Homo sapiens: one gene and its partners. The protein of the gene in region 4 purifies or fractionates together with the protein of the main gene of each other region. This does not show direct contact. Each region holds a gene or a part of one and is shown on either strand. Other genes may lie near its edges. The genes, in order: CARS2, TLN1, TRAF7 and RGCC.

Region 1 (7,028 bases), about 69 Mb from region 4:
CCATCCTTTTCTATGGCTGCACAGTATTCCATGTGCCACATTTTCTTCATCCAGTCTATCACTGATGGGCATCTGGGTTGGTTCCAAGTCTTTGCTATTGTGGACAGTGCTGCAATAAACATACGTGTGTATGTGTCTTTATAGTAGAATGATTTATAATCCTTTGGGTATATACCCAGTAATGGGATTGCTGGGTTAAATGGTATTTCTGGTTCTAGATCCTTGAGGAATCGCAACACTGTCTTCCACAATGGTTGAACTAATTTACACTCCCACCAACAGTGTAAAAGCGTTCCTATTTCTCCACATCCTCGCCAGCATCTGTTGTTTCCTGACTTTTTAATGATCGCCATTCTAACTGGCATGAGATGTTATCTCACTGTGGTTTTGATTTGCATTTCTTAAAGAATTACCTTTTCACTAAATACTAAAAAACAGATGTTTTCATAACTATGGGTTTCAGATACATGTTTTATTACATTGAAGTCAGACATTATTTTGAGGAAAGAAACTATTCAATACCATCTTAGGATCTTGCTGTGTACCAAGTATGGAAATTCTCTGGTTCAAAAATTAACTACTCTCTACAGTTAGAATGTTTAACCAATTCTACCAAGTTTTTCATATTCTAATCATAACATTTTTAAAAAAGTTAACAACCAATCCCTCCTTGTGGCATCTGTGAAATTAACTCTTGCTTCTTCCTCCCTTTACCACGCTGGCCACCTCCTCCTTCCTGCAGTTCTCTGCTCCCTGGATTCGGGGCTCTTGTCCCGCTTCTCTGATGGCAACGTTCCTGCCCCACCTTCCCCATCGCCCCCATGACACCCTCCAAGTACACTGTGTCCTCACCTCTCCTCCCATCCCCTGCGGGGCCCTTTCTCTGTCCCATGGGGCTCCCTCCAGAACTCAGCCAGTGTCTCAGCCTCTACCAGCTCCCTGCCACCAGGACATGGGGACTGACACAATTCTTTCTGATCTTGAAGATTCATGAGAGGCACGAAGCTACCAAGTGCTTTCATTTCAGGCTCTGGCTGCCCCGACGGCAGGTGAAAGCCCCGAACCACTGACCTTCCTTCTTTACCAGTGGGGCATTTCCAAACACCACCTCTGCTGAGGGTTACCTGGTGACTAGACATTCACGCACAGCCTTAGACATCACGCACCTGCCTTCTAAATCCTGCCTCTTATAGGCTGGGGGTAAGGATGTGAAGAAATACATTTAAAGTGGGAGCCGATTTCCAGCACTGCCAGTCTCTCAATGATCTGACTCTCAGTTGCAAGATATCAAATAAACTGTTCCCCCTTTGACCTAGCAATTCCGCTTTGGAAATTAATTAACTTTTTATTTAGAGACAGAGTCTCACCCTGTGGCCCAGGCTGGAGTGCAGTGGCACGATCTCAGCTCACTGCAACCTCCACCTCCCGGGTTCAAGTACTTCTCGTGTCTCAGCCTCTCGAGTAGCTGGGATTACAGGTGCACACCTCCACACCCAGCTAATTTTTTGTGTTTTAGTAGAGACAGCGTTTTGCCATGTTGGCCAGACTGGTCTCTAACTCCTGGGCTTAAGTGATCCAGCCTTCCAAAGTATAGGATTACAGGCGTGAGCCACTGCACCCAGCCACAGGAAATATATTTATAAGTAAACAAAACAAAAGCATATATGTTCATAGCAGCACTCTTTTTAACAGCCAGAAGCAATACAAACAGCAATTGGGAAAAGGCTAGAACTGCTAAACAGCCCCATGCGGTGGGAGACTACCCAGTTATGAGAAAGACAAATCAATAGAAAATAGGAAGACAGAGACCTCAGTGAAAATGTTCCTCAAGGACCTCACACCATTCCTTTGACTCATGCCTAAGAGACAAGAGAAGAGCTCTGTTCACTCAACAAATGACAAAGTTCAGCCTCTTTTCAGATAAACGCCCCAGCCCAAAGGCGGCCTCTGACTTCCAATCCAAATCTTTAGTCACTAGTTCCACCCCATTTCACAAAAGGAAGATGCATGGGTGTGACGGGAGGTTAAAGAGGAAGGGAAGCCACAATGACAGACAAATGCTATAATTCAAATCTCACTGACTTAAAAAGTATGTATATGTATATTTTTTTTTCAAAAAAAGAAATCCAGGCCAGGCGTGGTGGCTCACACCTGTAATCCTAGCACTTTGGGAGGCCGAGGAGGGCGGATCACCTGAGATCAGGAGTTCGAGACCAGCCTGGCCAACGTGGTGAAACCCCGTCTCTACTAAAAATACAAAAATTAGCCAGGCATGGTGGTGGGTGTCTGTAATCCCAGCTACTCGGGAGGCTGAGGCAGGAGAATCGCCTGACCCCGGGATGTGGAGGTTGCAGTGAGCGGAGATAGCACCATTGCACTCCAGCCTGTGCAACAAGAGTGAAATTCTGTCTCAAAAAAAAAAAAATCCAGCAAGTTTTTTTTAAAAAGCACCAGAAACACTGCTATGGTTTGAATGTTTGTCCCCTCCAAAACTCATGTTGAAATTTATTTGCCCTTGTAACAGTATTAAGAGGTGAGAACTTGAAGAAGTGATTAGGCCGTGAGGGCCCCACCCTCTTGGATGGGCTTCATGCCTTCTTAAAAGGGCTTTCCGGCCAGGTGCAGTGGCTCACACCTGTAATCCTAGCACTTTGGGAGGCCGAGGCAGGAGGATTGCTTGAGCTCAGGAGTTTGAGACCAGCCTGGGCAACATAGTGAAACCGCATCTCTACTAAAAATAGAAAAAAGAAAAAAATTAGTCATGTGTGGTGGTGCACAGCTGAGTCCCAGCTACCAGGAGGGCTGAGGTGGGAGAACAGCTTGAGCCCAGGAGATCAAGGCTGCACTGAACTATGACCACACCACTGCACTCCAGCCTAGGCGACACAGTGTGACCCTGTCTCCAAAAAAAAAGAAAAAAAAACCCAAGGAGGGGTGGGGGCAGGGGGCTTTTGGCAGGGCTTCTTTCTCTCCCCTTGACCTCTTGCCCTCCACCATGGGATGATGCAGTAAGAGGGCCCTTGCCAGATGCTGGCACCTTGATCTTGGTTTCCAGCCTCCAGCATAGTGAGCAAATACGTTTCTATTCATTATAAATTACCCAACCTGTGGTGTTCTGTTACAGCAGCACAAAACAGACTAAGACAAACACCGTCTAATGCTCTTGGAGGGTCAAACTGCCAAACAGCAGCCCACCACTGGACAATCCACAGGTGGTCTCCACAAAAAGCAGAGAGAACAGGGGTGGAACAGGTGCTGACCATGGACGCCGGTGACAGGTGCATGGGTTCATATGCTCTTCTCTCTACTTCATGTATGTTAGAACATTTCCACTGTAACACATGCTGGTAAAAGCAGTGGTAACTGGCAAAGTATCACAAGACTACATCTCGTCTACATCAAAATTAGGTCAGCTTTACTTAAATTCCTTCATCAGATTCAGGAAAAGGAAATAGCCAGTCATCCTAACTAACACACAAATGAATAGACTGTCTTGTATGCTAAACCACAGTGAATTGTGAAAATGGGCAAAAATGTCCAGAGAGAATGGTGATTAGAGGAAGCACCCGCAATGGAGAAAGCCGACACAAGACAGCATGTGGGGCAAAGAGTGACAGCGTTTCATCAGAATGGCTTCTTTAGGAAAAGTCTTCCTCACCAGCAGTTAAAGTCAAAGGACCCACCAAAGCCCTTCCGGTAGAAGTGATGTGCGGGGCACTGGCCCCCAGCCAACAGGGAGAGCCCGAGGAGGCGCCTCCAATGTCCCACCTGCCTGTACAACCTCATCCACTGTGTCTTCCCAAAGCTTGCCAGGCACCACACTCCAGGTGTGGGCCAGACTCCAGTGGGGCCCTCAGCCTGCACGGGAAAGAGACTTCTGCTACCCGCCACAAGTGCGCAGGCCATTCCCACCTGGCAGGGGTACTTGCCCAGAGATAGCTGAAGTCAGAGCTGTGGGAGTGGCCCTGCCCCTGAAGGTCTGTGCAACCTCAAGATGTGATCACCTTAACCTCTTGACTCTTCTGCAAGATGGGGACACATCCAATGAACCTGAGTGGAGGGCCACCTTACAAAATCAAAGTCCTACAATCCTTGACAGTGTCAAGGACATGAGACAGGGAACTACTGAAGACTGAAGGAGACCGAGGAGACAACAGGACTCTGGAAGGGGTTCTAGAACAGAAAAGAAAGAGGCGCTCGGGGACAGGGACAACACCTGGGGTTGACGTCCATGTCACCCACACCAGCGCACTGCATCAATGTCCGGTTCCTGACTGGGAGGGCTGTGCGGGCCTCGAGAGCCAGTGACCTTGCTCTGAAGGCACGCGTGGCGTGTGCAGAGAGGGGAGGCGGCCTGGTGGGAAAAGTCTAGAACAGAGAGAAGATGATGGCCCAACGCAGCCAACAATGGCCACGAGGAAACCCAGGGTGGCTGCAGGAGATCTTTGTACTATTCTTGTCATTTTTCTGTAGATCTCAAATCGCTTCAAATAATTTTTTAATATGGAATAAAATGTGTTAAAAAAAGCACAATAAGGTCTGCTCTGCGCAGCACACAGGGTTGTTCTGAGACTGAAATACTAATAGATACAAAAAGTACTTTTTAAACTATCAAGACACAGACATGAAAGGCATCATTAGCACAAATATGAATACGTCCAATCAGTGGGTCTGGTTCCCTCAGTAAAGAGAAAGTCAAGTCATTTCCCTTGGAGGCCGAGGGGCCAGGGGAGGGAGTAAGATTGGAGCCAGGAGACGACCACAGAAGGAGGTAACGACACGAGGCCACAGAAAAGCCTTCAGCGATCACAATACGATAGATGTTAACTTCCTTTACTAGGGCACCAAAGAAACCCTGCTAACCCAGCACTGTTTCATGTCTCAGATTACACCCACTGGCCACACATGGACAATAAGATGTGAGAACTACTTGTAAAATGCAAACAAGAACCACTTTCTTTTTTCTTTTTTTTTTTGAGACAGAGTCTCCATGACCCAGGTTGGAGTGCAGTGGCACAATCTCCGCTCATTGCAACCTTCGCCCCCCCAGGGTCAAGCGATTCTCCTGCCTGAGCCTCCTGAGGAGCTGGGATTACAGGAGCCCGCCACCACACCTGACTAATTTTTGTATTTTTAGTACAGACAAGGTTTCACCATGTTTGTCAGGCTGGCCTCAAACTCCTGACCTCAAGTGATCCACCTGTCTTGGCCTCCCAAAGTGCTGGGATTACAGGCGTAAGCTACCACGCCCGGCCAAGAACCACTTTCAGGAAGGGCTCAGAACACTAATCAATGGCATTATCAATAGATGTAACTCTTCTCCACTTACCTCATTGGCTCTTTTGATGATTTTATCATCTACATCTGTAATACCCATCACCATGACTATGCTGCATCCAAAAACCTTGGTTAGGATCCTTCGAATGATATCAAATCTAACATATGAGCTGAAAGAAAAAAAGTGTCAGGATGTCTTTATTACACAAAGTCATCAGTTATCTTTGTAAAAAATCCATTACATTTTAACATGCTGCTCCATAACTTCTACTGTGTAGCACAATGGACAGGTCAGCGGAGCAGGTACAAGGAAACTCCCTCTCACTGATGGCACCAGGGCCTGCGCCACAAGGGTTCTCAGGAGAAACTGACAAAGGTATTGCATCAATTTCAGGACACAATATTAGCATTTTTAATTTTGGAGTTGTTGCTTAAGTGAGTTGAAGTCTATTTAATTGTATAAAAATTCACTCATAATACAATCTCTCAGTTAAGATCGTGTTTTCACCATTCTTGTTCATGTTCTAGAGTAATTCTAATTTTTCACTATGACAAAACAGAAGCAAATACCAAATCAAAACAAGTACGATCCCATTAAAGCCATATAAGATTACTCCTAAGAATGCACACACTAGTGTAGAATATTTAAAAATGCCAGCTTATTTATATACTACACTGGGGTAATTCAGACTTGTAAAACTAAAAGGGTTTAAAATCTACTTAGCATCTCAAGAATCTGTTTTCCCATAAAAGTTACCTTAAAACTCAAGGTTATCTAATGTCACACTCACCTCTGCTATCCATGTGGCCTAAATTTCAGTTCGTAAAATTGTTTTCTCTTAGGGTGGTGTGGGGGAATCCTAGCCATGTTATTGTATCACTTTAACCTCCCACACACCCCCTCCCTCTCCAAACACAGCTGAGACCAAATCTTGATTCCAGGGACAAAACTATCTCCAAAACTCAACAAGATAATTAACCTCTTACAGCTCAGTCGGCTTGCTTATAAATTTGGCAAAATCCCACCACCTAACAGGACTGCTGTCCAGCCTTACCGCCTGTGCAGCATGAATTCTAAAAACACAAGCTATTATTACCATTCTCATCACCATGCTCCTTCATTCACCTCAAGTTGGGAAAGAGTCTAAAAGATGTGAGATTTACAAGAAAAAAATTACAGGAACCTAAAGCAAATGAAAACAAGAGTCAAGTCCCTTGCTTGGCCCAGAGGAGCCCAGGCTGAGTCCCGGAACTGCCCTTGGAGACAGCAGAGGCTCCACAGCTTGGCAGAGCTGGCGGAATGCAGGGTCATGAGCAATTTGAGACCCTGAGACGCTGCAGGCAGGCTGTGACCACAGGGGCCACTCTATACACAAACACGCACACACACGCCTTGCAAGTGCCGGGCAGCCAAGTCTGAAGAACATGGCATCAGGAGACCTCAGCTTGCTTCTGTGACTCCACCATGAACCATGCTACCGTCAGCCCGGCTCTTTCTGCCCCATTTTCTCCATCCACTGGGTGAGTGTGCTCATCTGGGTGATCGCTGAAATGATTCATTTGCTAAGAGTCTTCCCTCAAAACGCTCCAGTGTGACTCCGTCTACCATGGCATGAAATCCAAACTCTCTGGGCCAGACCACGCAGCACCCTCCCCAGTCTGGCTGCAACTGACGCCCCATCCCTTCCCCTGCTCCTCCCCCCTAGCACCAAACTGATCTATTTGTTTTCCCCAAACAGGGTTTCCATCCC
Region 2 (4,776 bases), on a different chromosome or scaffold from region 4:
ATCTACTTCAAGCTTTCCCTAATGTGGTGGGAGTAGAAGGTGTTAGTAGCAGATGGGTGGCGTTTGTGTTCTACTTGAGGAAATAATGTACTGGGCGGTAGGGCTGACTAAAGAATCACGCATGAAAATAGTTGCCAACCTAAGACGACTGTCAGAGAGTCCATGCATTATGGACAGAGTGGCTGGATGGGGACGTGGAAGCACACAGCATCCACCTCTCTGACTGCCTCTTTCCACTGACCCACCAGATAAGCAGGGTGGCTGGAACAGGGCTGCTAGCACCTTCCTGGCCACTAGGGGAGCTCTGCCCCCTCTAACAATAAATTCTCACACCTGGGTCAAGCTCTTCACTTTTAGCGCTACCCTAGGCAGGAGTGTCCCAACCCAATCAAGAGCGGTGCCTACCCGAGGCAGCCTCAAGTTGGGATTTTTCTGCTTGCTAATGGCTTCAATCAGTTTTGTGGCCATAGTTCTCTTAGGCTCAGACACTTACAGGCATATTATTTTTAGCAAAGCTTCTTTTGAAAATTTGAATTTGGTCAAGGACTGGATTTGTTGACATACCCTGAGTAGCTATGAAGAACAGAATGTCCTGGTAGCCACAAGGAACTGTGGTAGCTGCTGTCCCAGCAGCAGCAGAACGACACTTTGTGAGGCTTAGGTGCTGGCCAGGGAGGTGAGGATAACAGGAGTATGACTTCTCAGGCACAACTTCCCCATTGGATAACTTTAGGGTCCGGGTGCAAGGAGGAAGGGACCTCAGGTGCAGACTGCCAGTCTTCCCCTCTCCCATTTCAAGCTGGATCAAGCTGGGTGACAGAATTCAACCCCACTGTCTCTCCTACTGCCCTGGGAGAAAACTTGTATCTCCCTTGAAGCCAGGCAGAGGTTGTAGGTAGAATCATTTTTATTGGAGCATGACCTGTTTGGGGCTTATAACTCTGCAGCCCCTATGGGTAGCTGGGGGTGGGGGAAGATAGTATCAAAAAACGGTGAAGAGAGCTGATGAGGCTGTGGGGACTGGCCGGAAGCTGCTGGCAGGGTGGAGTGGGCTGGGGCCCCGGCAGATTCAGATCGAGGTACAGCAGCGTTAATAATACTCTTGGAGCGTTAATACTCTGGGGAGGGGCAGGCACTTGGGGGGCCCTAGGGCATGAAGGCACTTGGGGTTGGGGAGGGGACAGGGGATGTACTGCGGGACTGGGCGGGGCCAGGCCCTGGGGTTTGGCAGGCACTTTGGGGAGTGCTGGGGTTGGGCAGGTTGGGCCCCGACAGCCCAGAAGGCTTTGGTAGTGGCACGCACAGTCTCTGGGCCGGGTCTGCATTAAATAGAAGAGGCTTCTTTAGTGCTCATCTCGAAGCTCTGAAGGCAGAAACTTGTACTGCTGCTGCCGGATCTGGGCCAGTTTCTTCCGCGCCTCTTCCAGCTCTCGTTCCTTCCGAAGCATTTCTTCCTGTGCTGCGATGATCTGAGGGTGGAGATCGGGGACTTAGTTCAGTGAGGATGCACAGCAGGGGCATAGGGTAGTTGGGACCAGCGCAGGCAACATGACTGCCCTCCTGACAGCGTCCCTCAGCATCTGGGGTGAAGCTCACCTGGGCAATGCCGCCAACCATCTTCTCTTTCACCACCACTGTCTCATTCTCCTGCTCTTCAAAGGCTGCAGCCTTCTGTGCTGCTTTCACCAGATTATCTGAGGCTCGCTTCACTGCGTTGCCAGCAGCCTGGGCAGAGAGAAAGTGGCCTAGGTTGAGAACTCAGGTACGGTCCCAGTTGAGACAGTACCTCAATTCTCTCATAGAAACATACATCTCGGGAGTGACAGTTTGAAGCAGTATAGCCCAAGGGACAATGGGATGGGTCAGGGTTCTCACCTGAAGTCGTTTCATTGCCTCCGAGTCCTGGTCAGCCTTGACCTTGCAGGCCACAAGGAGCTGGGCTGTGGAGGCAGCTACCTGCTTGGCTGATGAGATGAGCTTCTCCTGGCTGGCATGGCCTTGTACAGCTGCATTGGCTGCCTCACACAGATTGTTGGTGGCCGCAGCCACCATCCGGGCCTAAAGCAGGGAGAGTTTGCTTAAAAATATGCCCCTTGCCCTGGTCCATCCCCACTCCAGCCTTCTCAAGTCTCTCAAACTGAGAGAGACCTAGTGGTATTGCACACTTACAGCAGAAATGAGGCCCTGGGACCACTGCCCATCGTCCAGTGCATTGGCTGGAATGGCACCCACCTGTAGGAAGGAGAAGAGCCTACTTAGACCTGCATTTTCCTCACTTCAAAGACTCGCTGGCTATGGATGTGGATGTGGACATCAAAGTGCCAACCTGTCCCCATTCTTCTGGGTATTTAAGCACTCACCTTCCCTTGGGCCACTAGTTCTCTCTGGGCAGCCGACGCAGCCTTTACCAGTGCACTGGTGGCTGCTGCAATGGACTTGGCAGCTTCTAGTATCTGCTCCTCAAAGTTCAAGGACTCATCTGCCTCCTGCAATAAGCGAAGGTTGCAGAAAGAGATGTAAAGTCAGAGATGAAGGTGGGGACACTGCCATGGTGAGGGTGGAAGAGGAAGGGAGCAGGACTGACCTTGGGTTTGGCCCGGGGCTTCAGCTGCTCTAGCTTTTTGGCTGCAGCCTCAATGGCGGCTGCAGCTCCCAGGAGCTCATTCTCAGCAATGACTGTGGGGTCCTCTGGGTCTACCCATTCTGTTCCTGGTGGGATGAAGGAAGAGGAAAGAGGCTAAGGCAGAGTGGGGAGGTCAAAAGCACCAGGGAGCATGGTTAGTATCATCAGGCCCTGGCATCTGTGGGGACTATGGTCAGAGGCTAGCACAGAGCTGTCCAGCCAGGAAGCAGAGATCACACCATGATAAGGGTTTTCCATCCGTCCCTGTCCCTGGTCACCCCTCACCCTTCATGGCTTCAGCAGCCTGGATGAGCTCAGTGACGGAACCAGCCACACGCTTTGAATGTCCTGTCAACTGCTGCTTCAGTTCTGGGCTTGGCTTCTGCAGGGTCTGGGCAAGAAGCGGGCAGGGGACAAAGAGCATCACATCTTAGGGTCTACCCTGATCTATGAAATAGGGCAGACCATGGCCCCCTCACCCCTATCCCTAGAGCACTCCACACCATAGCCCTCAAACTCCACGCTGCCTATCCAAGTACACATCATGCATCACACCTCACACGTGATAGAGACAGTGGGGCTGTGTCACTCACCGGCTGACAAGGAGCAAGGAGAATGATGAGATGAAAGAGGAGACGACGAAAGTAGAGAAGGGGGTGGTCAGGTGGGAAGGGAGGAGAAAAGAAAAAGAGGAAGAGGAAGAGGTGACTGGGAGAACCAAAGATGATAAGAAGGATGGGGCCTGGGAGAAAGGGAGACTTGGAAAGGAGAACAGATTTGGGAAGTAGAGGGTGGGGTAGGGAGGAGATCTGAGCAAAACAGACAGCAGGGTGCGAGGCCTGCAGGAAGAGGGCTGTGTATTCAGGGAGGCTGGTATGAGGAACAAGCAACGCCCTCCCTTACCAGCAGTACATGGTCCAGCAGTTCCAGGTAGCCATTGGCACACTCCCGGCCATAGTGCAGGGCTCGAAGCCGCACATCAGGGGCCACTTCTGGGTGGTAAGCTGCTTCCTGTCCCCAGAGTAATATGTTAGCTTTAGGCCCCGCAGATCCCTACAGTTTCTCTCCCACTATGTTCTGGCCCAAAGCTGCCTCACGGAAATGCCTCAAGGATTTCTACCTTGCAAGCCCGAAGCATATCTGCAATAGCACGGCGGCTCAGATTGGCTGTGGCAATGACATCTTCCTGGCGACAGGAATTGCCAGCAGCAACGGCCTTGGCGGTTGCCATGGTGATACCCTTGGTCATTCGGATGAAGTCTTCTGGGGTAGAGGTCTTGGCAGGTGGCTCTGGGGAACAGAAAACCTGTGGGGGCAGAAGAAGAAGAAAGATTTTACAGTGGCTGAGACTATGAGACAGCGTAGAACTCTGTGTGCATGTGATTTGGTGCAGACATTCACACATCACAGTGAATGTAACAAGGCAGTTGGTTATTGTTTCTGACTGAAGCAACTGGGGAGTTTGTTTGTTTGTTTGAAATCACAAAAGTAATTACAAAAGTGGCTTTTGGCTGGGTTTTCATTCCCAAAATAGAGAGAAGCCTTGAAGGGGTGAGAGGCAGAGCTAGGCCATAAAAGATATACAGATGATAGGAGGGCATTTTAGGTAAATGGTAGGACATGAACAACCAAGATGTCACATCGGAAAGTATCAAGGAATGTTCTGGAATATAGGAATGGTGAAGAAAAGGTTATTGGGGACTTGAATATCACACCGAGGAACTTGGACTTTTACATAATATGTGAAAGTCATAAAATATTTTGATGTACGGGTTCAATCTGCAAACATTTATTAAAGATCAGCTAGGTGGCAGATTCTATGCAAGGGGCTAGGGATGCTCCCTGTTCTCATGGAGCTTACATTCTGGTTTTGGACACAGGTAATAAATAAATAAACAAGCAGCAAAACTGAGGACTGTGATTTGGATTATGAGAGAATAGAGACAGTGCTGTGATGAGAACTACTTCAAATAGGTGGTCAGGGAAGGGCTCTCTGAGGAGGTGACATTGAGGCTGAAGCCTGATGAACTGGAAGGAGCACAGTGTTCAAAAAGCTGGAGAGAACTGAGTGGAAGAGCCTGCAGCAGATAAGAGCTTGGCATGTTCTCAGAACTGATGGTGCAGGGGGATGGGGCACAGAAAGGAAGAGAGTA
Region 3 (7,028 bases), on a different chromosome or scaffold from region 4:
CCCGCCTTCCTGGACGCCCTCGGCTCCCCCTCTGGGTTTCCAGGGCCTTGGGCCTCAGAGAGGATTACAGACCCCGGTGTGGCCCCAGCTCCGGCCTACCTCCCCGGGACCAGCAAGCGGGCAGCTCTCAGCGGAGCCTGTGGAGGGCCTGCGCCCACCCCGGCCCACCCCCGCCCGCCCCCCACTCACCCGTACTTGGAGTGGGGGCATTTGATGTGCTCGCACTCCTTGAGGTGGGCCTCCAGGTTCATCCTGAGCAGCGGGGGGCAGCTGGGGTTGTTGGGACACCGCACAGGCCTGTAGTCACAGCTGCCCTCGTGGTCCCTGTGCCAGGGCGGGATGCGGGGAGGCCTCAGCCAGAGCCCTGAGAAGCAGCCCCCAGGGAGGCAGAGGTGCCCAGGGAGGGGCACTTACTTCCGGGCGCTGAGCTTGATGGTGAAGGGGCACCCTCGGGGGTCCACCTCAAAGATGGGGGGCTTCCCGCTGCCCGCTACCCGGCAGCCGTGCCGGCAGTGGATGAAGAGCTCCCCGATCTGCTCGGCCACCGCGATGTTGTTCACCACCACGGTCAGTTTGACGTTGTCCACGGGACACTTCTCTGGGAGAGGAGGGCGTGCTGACCCTCACGGCCTGCCTGGCACACGCTCCCTCACCCGGGTGGGCATGAGCCTCTAATGGGGGCCAGATCTGTCCATCTGCGCCTCTGAGGCACGCAACATGGGAACGGGGGCACAGGTGGGCCACCAAGAAGGAGCAGCAGGTGCTGAGGGAGTGTCACCTGTGACACTCAGCTGTGCCCGGAAAAGTGTGGGGTGGGGCCAAGAGGGCAGAGGGCAGAGTGCGGAGAGGCAGGCAGGAGCGGGCGCCGTGCGGGAGGACGACAGCCTCGCCAGTGAGAAAGGCCTCCCCAGAGGGTGCCAACCCTGGCATGGGGAGCCTCGGCCCACACCCACTGTGGGGTCTCTGAGTCTGGACACACTGGAATTTGGGGTGTCCCCACTCTGCTCATGGAGGTCCCGAGCCTCAGCCTGAGCGTCCCTAGGACGGCTGCAGCCCCATCCCAACCCCAGCAGAGGCCAAACAGGGCCGGACGCTGTGCAGGGGACAAGGGAGAAGCCGCCCGCCTCTGCTCGGCAGCCATGGGCACGGTCGGCGTCAGGCCTGGGCCGGGGCACAAACCTACCTGACTTCAAGGCGCATCTCCTACAGAACGTGTGCTGTGGAGGCAAAGGGCGGGCTTGAGGGTGGCGCAGGGTCCTCTTTTTCCCTAGTCCATGGCCATGGCAGCCACAGGCCTCGCTGTACCCCAAGCCCAGTGCAGCCAGGACAGGCCTTGACCAAGGCCAGGGCGCCACAGCCCCGGCCCCCGAGAGCCCTGGGGTCCTGTGGGGGCCTCTGGCAGCAGGGGGGCTGGGAAGGGCGGCGGGCTCACCCCACACGTGGTGATCACGGGGTCTTTGAAGACGCTGCAGCAGAGCTGACAGCACAGCTTCACCGAGGGCTGCTCCGCAAACACCAGTGGCTCCTGGAACCAAGCGGGAAAGGCAGGCGATGGCGGGAGGCCACCCTCAGCCCCGCCACCACCCAGGCACCCAGGCGCTCTTGCTCCAGGCCTGGCTGTCCTCTGAGGACAGGGTCACGTCCTGAGAGAGGCCTGCTTAGAGCTGGGGGGCTTGATCGGGGCCCAGGAGGGAGAGCGAGGTCTGTGGCCCCAGAGGCAGGGCCCAACCCCGGAGGATGAGTTCAGCCGCCCAGCCTTGGCCGCCCTCGCCCGCCTCCTTCCTGGGGTGAGACTAGAAAGGGCCCTGCTGGAGCCCTGTGCTTCCCGCTGCCAGTTCCCGGGCAGCCCTGAGAAGGGGGAGTGGGGGAACATGCCCAGGGGACCCGGCCTGGTCCCTCGAGTCCCCACCACGGACCAGCAAGCACTGCAGTTCCCGTCAGGCCCCAGCCGCCCTCTCCCTGTGAGCTGGGCGGGCATGGCGGAGGGGAAGGTGCCTCCGTGCCACGGCTGCGGTGACAGCCCTGGAAGCCGCTCTGCGCCGAGTCCCCCACACCTACCGGCTCCTCCTCCTCCTCGGGCAGTGAGAATGTGGAGCGCAGAGACATGCTGGACTCTGAGTGCAGGGAGCGGACAGAGATGGCGGAGTCGGAGCGGCGGGGAGTGCTGATGGGGGGCTGTGTGGAGGGAGAGGCGCCTGTCGGGGGGCTCCGCACGGGGTCAGAGCCTCGGGGAGGACAGGACCCAGCCCGGCGGAAGCGCGAGGGCAGCAGCACCCCTGGGGCCACCCCGGTCCCTGCGGGTACTCTCCTCGTCCACGGGGGCCGTGGGTGGGCGTGGGGAGCTGATGCAACCCAGGTCCCTGCCTGCCCGCCTGGGCGGCCTGGGCCGGGGTGCTGGGCTGCCCGCTCACGCCTGCCACCTCTCTTTGTGTAAATGGAGAGACTTCCTGCTATTCAATTCCATATACCCGGGCTGCTTCCTGCTTCCCGTGGGGGAATGTGGGCCGTGAGGGGGCACCTCCACCAGCCAATCCTGGACAGCCGAGGCCGTGACCGCAGGATGGAAGGGCCAGGAATGCTGGCAGGGAGCGACGGCTGGGCTCCAGGTGCCCCCCGGGCCTGGCTGCTTGTCTGGCCTTGCTGGTGGGGGACACCAGGCCCAGCTGGGAGGCTCAGAGGGAAGGCAGGGCCAGGCCCCCAGAGAACCTCGGCTGAGCTTCCCGAGGGCAGGAGTGAGGGCCACAGGTGCCTGCCTCTGGCTGAGCCACCGACAAGGGAGCCTGGGGGAGGGGCAGACACTGTCCCTTCCTCCCCTCTGGCCTGGAAACCTCCAGAAGTTTCCAAGAGCCACACTGCCCAAGGCTTCTCTCCTGGTGCTTTGACTGCAGAGGGGCCCAGCTGCTGCTCTGCCGAGCCTCTGGCCCCCTTCCCGGCAGCCTGGGTATGAAACCCACAGAGCACAGAGGCAAACCAGTCCCAAGGCCGGCGGGGGGCATTGTGTGCCATGTACCCACCTCCCTTTGGGTCCCAAGGGCCCGTCTGCATGGAAGCAGCACATGGGGAACAGAAGGGAGTCAGAGAAAGTGAGTCACAAGGCCCCACAGCAGCAGAGGGAGCCCCAGGGGCGAGAGCAGAGCAGGAGCTGGCACGGGAACCACTCTCCCGGGCCTGCCCAATACTACCCCAGAGTCTCCCACCCTCTTGGGCGTAGGGGCTGACAGCAGGCAGGCCTGGGGGACGGGGGAAGGGCAGGAGGGGGACTCCCTGTGTGGGCCTATCAGCAAACAGAGAAGGTACCCGCCTCTCTTGAAAGCCACCGTGACCCATGGGGATAGCAGGTGATTATGGGAACCACAGACATGGAGGACTCGTGGCTTCGGGTTGTGGAGACCGAGGCAGGCAGAGGCCCAGGGGACGGGGCCCAGACATACCCAACTCGCCCTCGGCCTAGCACAGCGCCCGGCACACAGGTGTGTTTGTTCAATTAATTAAAAACTTCTTTTCTGGCTGAGCAAGGTGGCTCACACTTGTAATCCCAGCACTTTGGAAGGCCAAGGAGGGGGCAGATCAGCTGAGGTCGGGAGTTCGAGACCAGCCTGACCAACATGGAGAAACCCCATCTCTACTAATTCAAAATTAGCCAGGAGTGGTGGTGCACGCCTGTAATCCCAGCTACTCGGGAGGCTGAGGCAGGAGAGTCACTTAAACCCGGGAGGCGGAGGTTGTGGTGAGCTGAGATCACACCATTGCACTCCAGCCTGGGCAGCAAGAGCAAAAGTCCGTCTCAAAAAAAAGAAAAAAGGAAAAAAGAAAAGGCCTCGGTCCCAAGAGGGCCAGCAGGGCCGCCACACCTGGTGTCCAAGCACTGGAGAGAGGCAGCTGCCAGAGAGGCCCCACACACCCCCACCCCCTGCTGGGCCAGTCCTTCATGCCCAGGGTAGAGTTGGCCTCTGTCCCCTGGGTAGGCCCAGAGCCCAGCAATGAGCGCCATTGACCAGGATGGCAGGGAACGGCCACTGAGACCCTGGCCACAGGGCTCAGGTACCAGCAGCCAGCCCCCGACTGCCCTGATCCTTTCTGCACCTCACACAGCCAGCAACAGGGAATTCTCCGGCTCCCCCAGCACTTGGCGCAGGTTCCGCAACCCCCACCCCATTGCCTCTGGTGTCCCCACAGCTTAGGTCCACACACCTTTCCCCCCGCCTCATCAGGACCCCTCCTCAAACCCTGCCTGGACCCAGCAACCCCGCTCATTCCCTACCCAGCAGCAAAGGAAGCTTTCAAAGCATGTATTTTATTGTGCTATCCTCCTGACTGAACTTTCTGTGGTTTCCACCTCCCTTAAGATGGAGCCAAATATGCCTCATCCTGGCCTGCAGGTGCCAGGCCCTCTGACCCAGCTGCCCTCACTGGCTGCCCCCTGCCACCCACAGTCCAGCCACAGGAGCCTCCTTTCTCACAGACTTGCCATGTCTGCCGAGGCCTCAGGGTATCCACAGGTGCTCTTCTTCTCCTGTGCCTCACCAGCTCACTGTCAACTCCTCCTGGGACCTGGTTCCCCCAGGAGGGAGGATGGGGGGAGGCTGAGGCTCACACGGGCTCCTGGGGGTAGGGACCTACCATGCTGTCCTCCTCGTCCCGCGGGGAGTAGGCAAGGGTGCTGGAGGAGGAGGGTGTCCTGCAGTGCTGCTTGTAGGTGCTGGTCCCGTCAGCTGCAAGGCAAGAGGGCTGGCGTCTCAGTGGGGGCTCCCTCAGCAGATGTGGGGGAGGTGGGGCCCATGCTGGATACCCGACCCTGTGGGTCCCCTGTAGCTCACAGCCCTCCCCAGGGCCAGGCAGGCAGGAAAGCATGCAGGGATGGCACGGGGGAAGCTTGGGTTCCCTCTCAAGGTCAAACCAGTGCCAGGAGCATGGACGCTGGGCTCGGTCTACATCTGGACAGTCCCAGCGCTGAGCCCGGTAGCCCCTGCCCCAGCCCTGCCTACCCCAGGCAGGGTCTTCTTTCAGGGCCTCTACAAGCTCCCCAGCACCCCAATTGAGCCAGCTGAGGCTCATGGCCAGCACGCAGCCATCACTCTGAAGGCCGCCTGGCAGCAGCTGGGGGTGCCATTTTATTTGCCTCTTGAGGCACCTCTGCCAGGTGAGTTCCCTGACAGCCTCCACTCACAGAGGGGGAAGCTGAGGTTGAGGTGTGGGCTGGGATACAGAAGGGCCAGGACCGCATCCTGGTGTCCCTGGCACAGCCAGGACCAGGAAGTGGCCCCAGCTTTGGTGGCCTCCTCTGGGGCAGGAGCTGAAGTGCCCTCCCTCCTCCTGCCCACACGTCACCCCAGCTTGGCCAGGGCCAGAGGGCAGGGCTACCGGCCGGTCAGTCCACGTGGGAGGCAGAGAGAGACACCTCCCGGACTCAGGACCAGCCCAGCTCAGATGTCACGATGAGCCCTGGGCTCGAGATTGAGGCCTCGAGAGGCTGCCGTGTGACTGGGCCTCGGTTTCCCCATCTGTCATGAGGGGCCAGGTGAGGTACCTGTGGGCGCCCTGCTGCCTGGCTCTGCCCATCCCTGCCGCCGAGGGGCCAGGCATAGCAGCCGTGCCCTGCCCCATCATGGGTACCTTCCGCCGTGTGACAGGGGCCATGGGGCTTCTAAGGGTAGATGAAAAGGCACCGTTTTTTGGGGGGTAGGATTAGAAAAAAAAAGAGGGCCCCTGGAGAGCCCCTGAGGGGATCACCAGCAGCAAAGAGGCGCTACTGTAAGCAGGTGTCCTTGGCGGCCCTATGACCCCATGGCCAGGTTTATCAGAGCAATTAAAAAGCTAATTAGCAGCCAGTGTGCTTCTACAAAGGGCAGAGTGCCAGAAAGGAGAGAGAACAAAGTCACCCCAGAACCCCACCCCGGAATGAGGGTCCCTGGCCCTGCACCTCGGGAAGAAGGCACTGCCACTTCCGCATGGTCTCCCTGAGCACGGCGCTTGCGTTCAAAGCGCAGCACTCTGGTTTTTAGGGGATAGGACTGAGAAGCAGCAGGGAAGCTTCAGGTTTCTGTCGTGTATCCCGCCCAGTGGTCTTGTGCAGGTGAAGATTTATTGGGCTTGGCTTGCTGGCTCATGCCTGTAATTCCAGCACTTTGGGAGGCCAAGGCAGGAGGATCACGTGAGCCCAGGAATTTGAGACCATCCTGGGCAACATGGTGAGACCTCATCTCTACCAAACATAAAAAAAATTAGCCAGGTGTGGTGGTGCCTGTGGTCCCAGCTACCTGGGAGGCTGAGGTGGCAGGACTGATCCCAGGAGGCACAGGTTGCAGTGAGCCAAGATTGCGCCACTGCATTCCAGCTTGGGTGACAGAGTGACACCCGTCTCAAAAAAACAAACCAGACTTATGGATCTCTTCCACTCTCCCTCCCTTCCTATTAACATGTCACAACTGCAGCACTGTTACTGAAGCCCTAGGGCCAAACTCAAGAGAAGACCTCCGGGCACACGGGACCTTTCGGAGGCTGGCCAGGAGCCTGAGACTGGGGACAAGCTGGGGATCACTGTGACAAGGGACAGGGCTGTGTGGTGGTGCTGGAGATGTCAGGGCAAGCCTCCCTAGAGGGGATGAAGAGGGCAGGGAGAGAGGGCACAGCACAGTCACCGAGGCACAAGGAGCAGGACACCCGACTCCTGTCCAGTGGGGAGGCCCAGGGCTGAGAGGCTGTGAGGACACAGGCTGCGGTGTGAGGCTGCCCGCGCCCAGCACTGGCACCCAACACCAGCTCACCGGGAAGTGTCCCTCAGTCCTTAGCAGGGTGGGCATGGGGGTGCCCCGGTTATTCCCAGCCTGGGCTGGCCTTGGCTTAAGGGCTCACCTTTTGTGATGGTGGTGACGGCTGAAAAGGCGGGTCCGAAGGTCGTTTCCATTCTGGTCTAGAGGGAGGACGGAGGAGACCTGGCCTCATTCCGGGACACAAGGAGGACGTGCACATGTGGAGCCCACTCACATGCCTAACACGCGACCAGGCCAGGCCACGCAGCACTCACACAC
Region 4 (7,581 bases):
ATGTGATCTGGGCTCAAAAGGACTTCAGTCTATTCGTGAAGACATGGTTCCCATTCCAGCTAATAAATCATCATCATCATCATAACAAGCGTTTGCTAAAAGTGAGCTGCTGTTATTATCCTTATCCTGGTGTGTCTCCCTCTTGATGAGCTAAATTTCAGTAGTATCTACCTCTCTTAAGCATTCTCTCCCATAGAAAAGCATTAAACAGACAAACGAGGATAACAAATGTCTGTACTCAATTCTTGGCAGCAATTAAGATATACATATTATGCTTCCTTAAGAAATTACTATTTAGATACACACAGCTTCTGCCAACAATATTTCTGACTAGCCTTGTGAGAGAAAAACTACACATTTAAAGCAAAGACAAATGTCATCTGAGCTTTCTTTATGTTCTTCCCATCACTTCTCTAACCACCAAACTAAGGGTTAGTCCGTTAACAACAAAAGCAGAAAACAGACACATATAACCTAAGCAAAACTACAAACTATCCCAACTATCTCCCCTGAAACTGTTAAGAATGTGTTTCTATGTCTTCTCTTTAAGGCATCTGAAAACAGATTCTAGATCTGAAATCCCACCCAGTGGAAGTTGCAATCAGCCATGAATGGGCGCGCTCAGACCTATTCTAGTAGAGTGAGGCTGTTGCTTAGAAAGGAGCTGTTCTTTGCCACAGAGCAGCAGCGACACACTATCCTAGCTTTCTTTTCCATGCGAGAATCTGTATTTGATGAATAACTTGCTCCATGCCCCAGTAGGAGGAGACATATTTAAGTTTGGCCTTTAGAATTGAGACAAATTTCAAAAATGTTAACACTTTGCTTTGAAATTGAAAATGAACCTATTCATTAAGAACAAAGTCCAAAAATTCTAAGTGGAAAAGTAACAGTACTTTCTTCCATCCCCTTTCACCTCAAAAGCTGCAGCTTGGTCTAACTCTTTGGCAGTGCTGCCAAGGAAACAAGCTGGAACTCAGCTTCCTGAGTCAAACCCTGACCAGGGTGGTGAGCGCATTTATCCCTTTGCAGAAGGGCAGCTCATGTTCATGTCTAGCCCCGAATCTTAGCCCAGGAACAAGGAAGAGCTCCAGGTTTCAAAATAAGAGAATCACACGGAAAGGCCATTACTTTCACGTCCTGAGTCAAGGGCAGCAAAAGGAGTGACATTCATGCCTGTAACCCATCTAAGGATTAAAGGCTGAAGAATAACACAGAAGAGTTTAAAATTGACTTTGCCCTTTGAAAAACAATAAGCAATTCTGGATTTGAAACCAACAATCATGTAATATTAAAAAGGCACCTAATTTGCTGTTTGAGGTACCTGTAATCCTCCCAGGACATGTGAGTTCCTGGAAAAAGCTGTCTCTTTTGTTGTTTTTGTTGTTGTTGCTGTTGTTGACAAAGTTGTTCAGGACAAAGAGACCCTGGGGTAGTCTCCATTGTGAGAAAGATCACCAGGAACCACCTTCATGCCCATGTGCTCTCTGGCTCCCCCTCCAGCCTGGTGGAGGACCTGGCTGAAAAATACTTGAACTCAGCAGTGCCAAAGATTTTCATAACTGCATGCAATGGAGCAACAAGTCTGAGAGCTAAGGGCCAGAAGACAATGCAAGCAGTTATTTCATAAATCCCAAGAACAGCAGTTTGGGCTTATGAAACCTTTCCTGGTTTCATGAATATTTCCGTTCTGCGCCCTCCCATGTCCCCACTGTGCCCCCTCATTCCACTGGCACTTGTTCCACATCTGCAAAGTTACAGCTGAGAGGGGAGAGGCACGGAAAGGAGAAGAGGAGGGAAACTGCGGAAAGGCCTGGTGCAGGTCCAGGGAGTCCTGTCTGGCTGAGTCGGGACAAGCTGCTTAAACTCGCCTGCCTGGTGACACACCCGTGGGCGGCAAGTGAACCAACCTGCCCTCCAGCGACCTTTCCCGTGATTATCGTCAGGGGCCCCGCCACCACTCGGCCTACTGCGTTGAGCTTCAGGAAACCATTCCTCAGTTTACTGATAAGAAAACTGAGGCCGCAGCCTTCGCGGGGCAGGTCCTGGGAGCTGGGAGATCCCGGCGCCATCCTAGCGGGGGCCGCACTTACTCTCCGAGTCGCTGAAGCCGCTGCTGTCGCTGACACTGGCGCTGCTGCGCCGCTTCATGCGCTCCAGGTGCTCCTCGTAGTGGAAGTGGCGCTCGTGGAAGGGCGACGCGAAGTCGGCCAGCACCGCGTCAAACTCGCACAGCGCGTCCGACAGGTCCTCCGCGGCCGCCGAGTCCAGGGCCGGGGCTGCGGGCAGGGCCAGGGGCTCAGTGCACGGAAGTCAGGGGGGCAGCGGGACCACCTCCCAGGGCCAGGAGGGGCCGCCACGGTTCCCGAAGATAACTGACACTTGGCGCCTCTGCCAAGTGACAGCCACGCAGTCGCTGTTACCTTGTAATCTTCTCCACCACCCCCGAAGTGCGTTCTATTACCAAGTCCGTTTTACAGACAAGAAAACTGAGCCTTCGCCAGGCCCAGGGTCACCCAGCGACTTGGCGCGGCCAGATTCCTCCCCAGGCGCTGCCGGTTACCTGTCCCCGCCGCTCCCCCCAACCCCGGGCGCGCGCGGAGCTGGTGGTGGAGGGAAGGTGGGACATGGGGGCCAGCCCGGGCCGGAAAGGAGGCTGCAGCCGCCCGCGCGGGAAGACCGGGGACAGGTTCCCGCCGGGGAGGATGGAAGGGTGGGGGGTGTGAAGGGACGACACGGGGCCCCTCCTTTCTCACCCGCCATCTGCAGAGCCGAGACTTTAAGGGGACCCCGGACCCCGCACTCACCTGCGGCCGCGGCGGCCGCGGGGCTGCCCTGCGCCGCGGGCGGCTTCATGAGGCGGCTCAGCTGGGCCCGGCGCGCGTGGCCTTGGGTCCTGCGAGGTGGCAGCCGGGGCTATTCGGGGGCTTGCTGTCCCGCACACTTCAGCCCTGCCAGTCCCTTCGGCGCTGCGCTCCAGCCGCGCCGCTCCCAGCACGGTCCGCGCCCGCCCTACCACCGGCTCGGGTTCCTAGATCTTATAGCCTTCGGCGGCCGGAGCGGAGGCGGGGCCGGGGCGGGGCTGCGGAGCCGGGGCGACGGGTCTGTCCCCGCCGCCCTCCGAGGAGGCCCCTGCCCCCAGGCACCGCCCTCGCCACGCGCCCGCCCTGGAACCGCGGTGACGAGGAGTCGCCGAAGCCCCGGTTACAGCCCCAAATATTTACCCGCCTCTCGCCCCCGCGCCCTGACAACCCGGCCCACGCGGTGTCCTCGGCGTCACCAGAGCTGACTGCTGGGCGCGAGCTCTGCTGCTTCCCGCCGCGTGCCAGGCACCTCCGCGAGCCGCAGCTTCCTCGGCTGTGAAGTGGACGTGGGCATGCAGAGCCTCCCTGGCTGGCGGTGAGGGACGAAGGAGCCCGCGGCCGTGTCCCAGTCGGGTGTCGGGGACGCGGAGGTCCCCTACGCATTGTCCCAAGGGGACTTCCGAGATGGTGGGCGGGCGGAGTGGAGAGGGTCGGGGCGAGAGGGGCAGGAGTTGGGGGAGTCCTGAACTGTTCCCACCGCGGAGCGCGGGGGCCTGAACTACGGTCCAGGGCGCTCCCGCCAGCCTGACTTTATCTAGAAGGGGTTTATTATGGGAAGAAACTACTGCGTCGACGCAGCGCGAACAGGGCGCCTTGCAGTGTCCACGGAGTAACGAGCCACCCTGCCCCGCGGCCTGCGGGGGCGAACGCCCTGGACTGTGCGCTGAGCTAGGCGCTAGCCTCTCGCCTCTCACCACAGACGGCTAATTAAATGTAGAGCAATTAACATGTAACGGAGTGAAACATTCAGCCTCCACTCCCAGCTAGTTTTTGTATTTTTAGCAGAGACGGGGTTTGTCCATGTTGGCCAGGCTGGTCTCGAACTCCCGACCTCAGGTGATCTGCCCACCTCAGCCTCCCAAAGTGCTGGGATTACAGGCGTGAGCCACCGCACCCAGCCAGGATTTGTTTTCAGAATATAGAAAGACCCATCTACAAAGTAATCACAAATAGACAACCTGGTAAAAATTAAAAATGAGCAAAACATTGAAACATACACCTCACAAAGGAGTATATGTTAATGACCACTAATCATATGAATAGTCCTCCTCTCTTGTCTACTCTGGGTGGCCTAGGGATATGCTTGTCTTGTGGAGGCACAAGCACTGTGGGCTCAAGAGTGGGGAGCCTCTTTCCCTGTTAAGGGGAGGACACCACTGGGATCTCTGGTGCCATCTCCTGCAATGGATCCTCTGATGTGGGGTCGAACAGAACTTCAGGAGTTGATTTCCCTGGGTGAGTGGAGCGGGATCCTTCCTTAGCTATCTGTCCCTTTGCTACTAGTATTGCTGCTGCATGCCCTCAGCCACTGTGGGGGTTCTAGCACCAGCTGTCACCAAGTGTCTATGTATGGGAACTGGTCTAGGTATCTTTACCAGTTACCTTGTGCCACGCCTTAGAAACAAGGGACCTGTCCAGGCTTCCTTCTGATGGCCAACCCACTTCTAATGGTGCGCAATCTATTTCCCACAAGGTTCTAAGTTCCCCTGGTGGTCTAGTGCTTAGGATTCGGTGCTCTCACCGCTGCTGCCTGCGTTCGATTCCCGGTCAGGGAACAAAGAAATGGAGCATGGATGAGCAGCGGACAAAACCCCTCAGACAGCGGATTAAAGAAGGAAGAGTTTTTTTTATTCCGCTGGGAGCTTCGGCAGACTCGCGTCTTAAGAGCCGAGCTCCCGGAAGGAAGACAGAGTTCCTGGCCCGTTTAAGGGCTTACAGCTTTAAGGGGTTCCACGTGAAAGGGTCTTGATGGATTGAGAGCACATGTACTTAGAGTCACGGGGGTTGATTGTTTCACCTCAGGCCGGCTCCTCATTGCCACCGGCTGGTCTTGACACTGACTTCATTCCTGTTGTTTTCCAACTTTTACTTCCTCCTCCTCTTCAGAGACAGGAGACAGTAGCGAAATGGCTTCTCTCCTCAGGGCGACAGGATGATATTACTCCCAATATCACAGGGGGTGTACACACCCCTATGAAACTCTTCCTACTATCCAGAGGGAGAGAGGATGATATTACTCCCAATAGCGCAGGGGGTGTACACAGCCCTGTAATACTCTTCCTAAAATCCACAGGGAGAGAGAATGATATTACTCCCAATATCGCAGGGGGAGTACACAACCCTGTGATATTGTTCCTAATATCCAGAGCGAAAGAGGATGATATGACTCTCAGTATTGCAGGGGGTGTACACCCTCCTGTAATATTTTTCTTAATACCCTGGGAGGGAGAGGATAAGATTACATTGAATATCACAGGGAATGTACACTCTCCCCCCTCTGATACCCTTCCTAATATCCAGGGGAAGAGAGGATAATTTTCCTCCCAATATCGCCGAGGCAGTACACCCCCTCCCCATGATATTGTTCCTAATATCTAAGGGAGGAGAGGATGATGCTTCTCCCAATAAAGCAGTGGGTGTACATTACCCCTGTGTTATTGTCTGTAATATCCGGGGCGCGGGGGGTGCAGGGGAGAGGATAAGATTCCCTCAAATTTGGCAGGTGGTTTGACACCCCATGTGGTATTGTTTTTAATATCCAGTGGGGAAGACAATAATACTACTCTCAATATCACAAGAAATGTACATCCCCCTGTGATATTGCTACTAATATCCAGGGATAGAGAGAATGATGTTACTCCCAATATCGTCAAAGTGTCCACCCCCCCCTTTGATATTGTTCTTAATATATGGAAGGCAAGTATGATATGACTCCCAATAAGAAAGGGGGAATACACGCCCCTGTGATATTGTTCCCAGTATGCTGTGGAGGAGAGAATGATATTACCCCCAATATCGCAGGATGTGTACACCCCCCTGTGATCTTGTTCATAAGGTTCAATAGAAAAGATAATCTTACTGGAAATATCGTAAATACACTGTGTGTCCACAGTGGCTGCTAACATGCAGGGAGGGACGGAGGTTGATATTACTCTGCGCATCAGCGGGGGCTGTCCACACGCCTTCGATGTGGCTCCTAATATCCATGGGGAAGGGGGGGTAGATATTACTCCCCGCATCACTGGGGGTGTCCATCCCCTGCCATGTGGCTTGTAATGTCAGGAGGGGCTGATATTTCTCCCCGCGTCGCGAGCGTCGCCCGCCCCCCTGCGATGTGTATCGTAATAGCCAGGGAAGGAGAGGGGCGTGATATTACTCCCCGCATCGTGGCGGAGTCTATCACCGGTCGGGATACTATACACCCCCTGGGATATTGGGAGTACACCCCCTATGATATTGGGAGTAATATCATACTCTTACCCCCGAGTATTAGGAACAATATCATGGAGGGAGTGTTCACCCCCTGCCATACTGTGAGTTATGTCATTTTCTCTACCCGTGGACATTAGAAACAATATCACAGGGGTGGTGTCCAACCCCTGCGAAATTGGGTGATATATCTTCCTCTCCACCTTTGGATATTAGGGACAATATCACAGGGGAGGTCTACACCTTCTGGATTATTGGGATTAATACCATCCTCTCCCAGCCTGGATATTAGCAACAAGATCACAGAAGGAATGTACACCCAGTGCGATATTTGGAGTAATGCCATCGTCTACCCCTGACTATTCGGAACAACATCACAGAGGGGTGTACATTTTCTGCGATATTGTGAGGAATGTCGCAATATTACTTATCGCAATTAATAACATCAATTATTGATTGATATTAATAACATCAATTATTGATTGATATTAAAACATCAATTATTGATTGATATTAATAATATCAATATTAATAACTGATATTTTTAAATCAATACCGATAATCATAATTTCTATTACATAGTTCTACCAATGATAAAAATAAATTATTAATATTAATTATTAATAACACCTGATATTAATAACTGATACTGATCTTATTCATTAGAAAACAGTAATATTAGCTCCTAATAATATTAATATTAATAATCTGAAAACTTTTTATTAGCAATTATTTCTTAATATTAATATTGGTAATTCATATTCATGTTAATAATCAAGGTGTAATAATTCATACTAATATTACTCCTAATACCGCAGTGGGTGTACACCCACCTGTGATACTGTTCCTAATGTCCACGGAAAGGAGAGAGCATGATATTACTTTCAATATCACAGTAGGTGTACACCCACCCGGTTATATTGATCCGAATATAACATCCAGGGGGTGGAGTATGACGTTACTCCCAATATAGCAGTGGGTGTACATCCACCCGGTGATATTGCTCCTAATATTCACGGAAGAAGAGAATGCTATTACTCGCAGTATCGCAGGAAATATACAACCCTTCTGTGATATTGTTCCTAATATCCGGAGGGGGAGAGGGTGATATGAGTCCCAATATCGCAGGCTGTGGACACCCACCCTGTGATATTGTTCCTAATTGCCAGGATGGGGGAGGACGATATGACTCCCCATACAGCAGGAGGTGTACACCCACCCTGGGATATTATTCCCAATATCCATGGAGATGAGAGGCTGATATGACTCCCAATATCTGAGTGGGTGT

Evidence for each region.
Region 1: the proteins of RGCC (region 4) and CARS2 purify together in Homo sapiens (affinity purification with mass spectrometry; 3 studies listed by BioGRID and IntAct, with this or other methods). This does not show direct contact.
Region 2: the proteins of RGCC (region 4) and TLN1 purify together in Homo sapiens (affinity purification with mass spectrometry; 3 studies listed by BioGRID and IntAct, with this or other methods). This does not show direct contact.
Region 3: the proteins of RGCC (region 4) and TRAF7 purify together in Homo sapiens (affinity purification with mass spectrometry; 3 studies listed by BioGRID and IntAct, with this or other methods). This does not show direct contact.

What each region holds. Positions count from the first base shown.
Region 1 is NC_000013.11:110,696,109-110,703,136, forward strand, and holds part of CARS2 (probable cysteine--tRNA ligase, mitochondrial), read right to left. Parts: intron 5,448-7,028; coding exon 5,330-5,447; intron 1,860-5,329; exon of another isoform or gene 1,858-1,859; coding exon of another isoform or gene 1,810-1,857; intron 1-1,809. UniProt on the Homo sapiens protein: Mitochondrial cysteine-specific aminoacyl-tRNA synthetase that catalyzes the ATP-dependent ligation of cysteine to tRNA(Cys). In addition to its role as an aminoacyl-tRNA synthetase, has also cysteine persulfide synthase activity.
Region 2 is NC_000009.12:35,696,448-35,701,223, forward strand, and holds the end of TLN1 (talin-1), read right to left. Parts: intron 3,930-4,776; coding exon 3,744-3,929; intron 3,635-3,743; coding exon 3,527-3,634; intron 3,015-3,526; coding exon 2,909-3,014; intron 2,710-2,908; coding exon 2,585-2,709; intron 2,487-2,584; coding exon 2,361-2,486; intron 2,233-2,360; coding exon 2,170-2,232; intron 2,059-2,169; coding exon 1,876-2,058; intron 1,726-1,875; coding exon 1,597-1,725; intron 1,470-1,596; coding exon 1,344-1,469; 3' UTR 501-1,343; downstream 1-500. UniProt on the Homo sapiens protein: High molecular weight cytoskeletal protein concentrated at regions of cell-matrix and cell-cell contacts. Involved in connections of major cytoskeletal structures to the plasma membrane.
Region 3 is NC_000016.10:2,165,761-2,172,788, reverse strand, and holds part of TRAF7 (E3 ubiquitin-protein ligase TRAF7), read right to left. Parts: intron 6,933-7,028; exon of another isoform or gene 6,911-6,932; coding exon 6,853-6,910; intron 4,713-6,852; coding exon 4,621-4,712; intron 2,176-4,620; coding exon 2,059-2,175; intron 1,526-2,058; coding exon 1,433-1,525; intron 1,218-1,432; coding exon 1,184-1,217; intron 599-1,183; coding exon 415-598; intron 325-414; coding exon 190-324; intron 1-189. UniProt on the Homo sapiens protein: E3 ubiquitin and SUMO-protein ligase that plays a role in different biological processes such as innate immunity, inflammation or apoptosis. Potentiates MAP3K3-mediated activation of JUN/AP1 and DDIT3 transcriptional regulators.
Region 4 is NC_000013.11:41,452,983-41,460,563, reverse strand, and holds the start of RGCC (regulator of cell cycle RGCC), read right to left. Parts: upstream 3,015-7,581; 5' UTR 2,857-3,014; coding exon 2,808-2,856; intron 2,280-2,807; coding exon 2,094-2,279; intron 1,593-2,093; exon of another isoform or gene 1,325-1,592; intron 1-1,324. UniProt on the Homo sapiens protein: Modulates the activity of cell cycle-specific kinases. Enhances CDK1 activity. May contribute to the regulation of the cell cycle. May inhibit growth of glioma cells by promoting arrest of mitotic progression at the G2/M transition.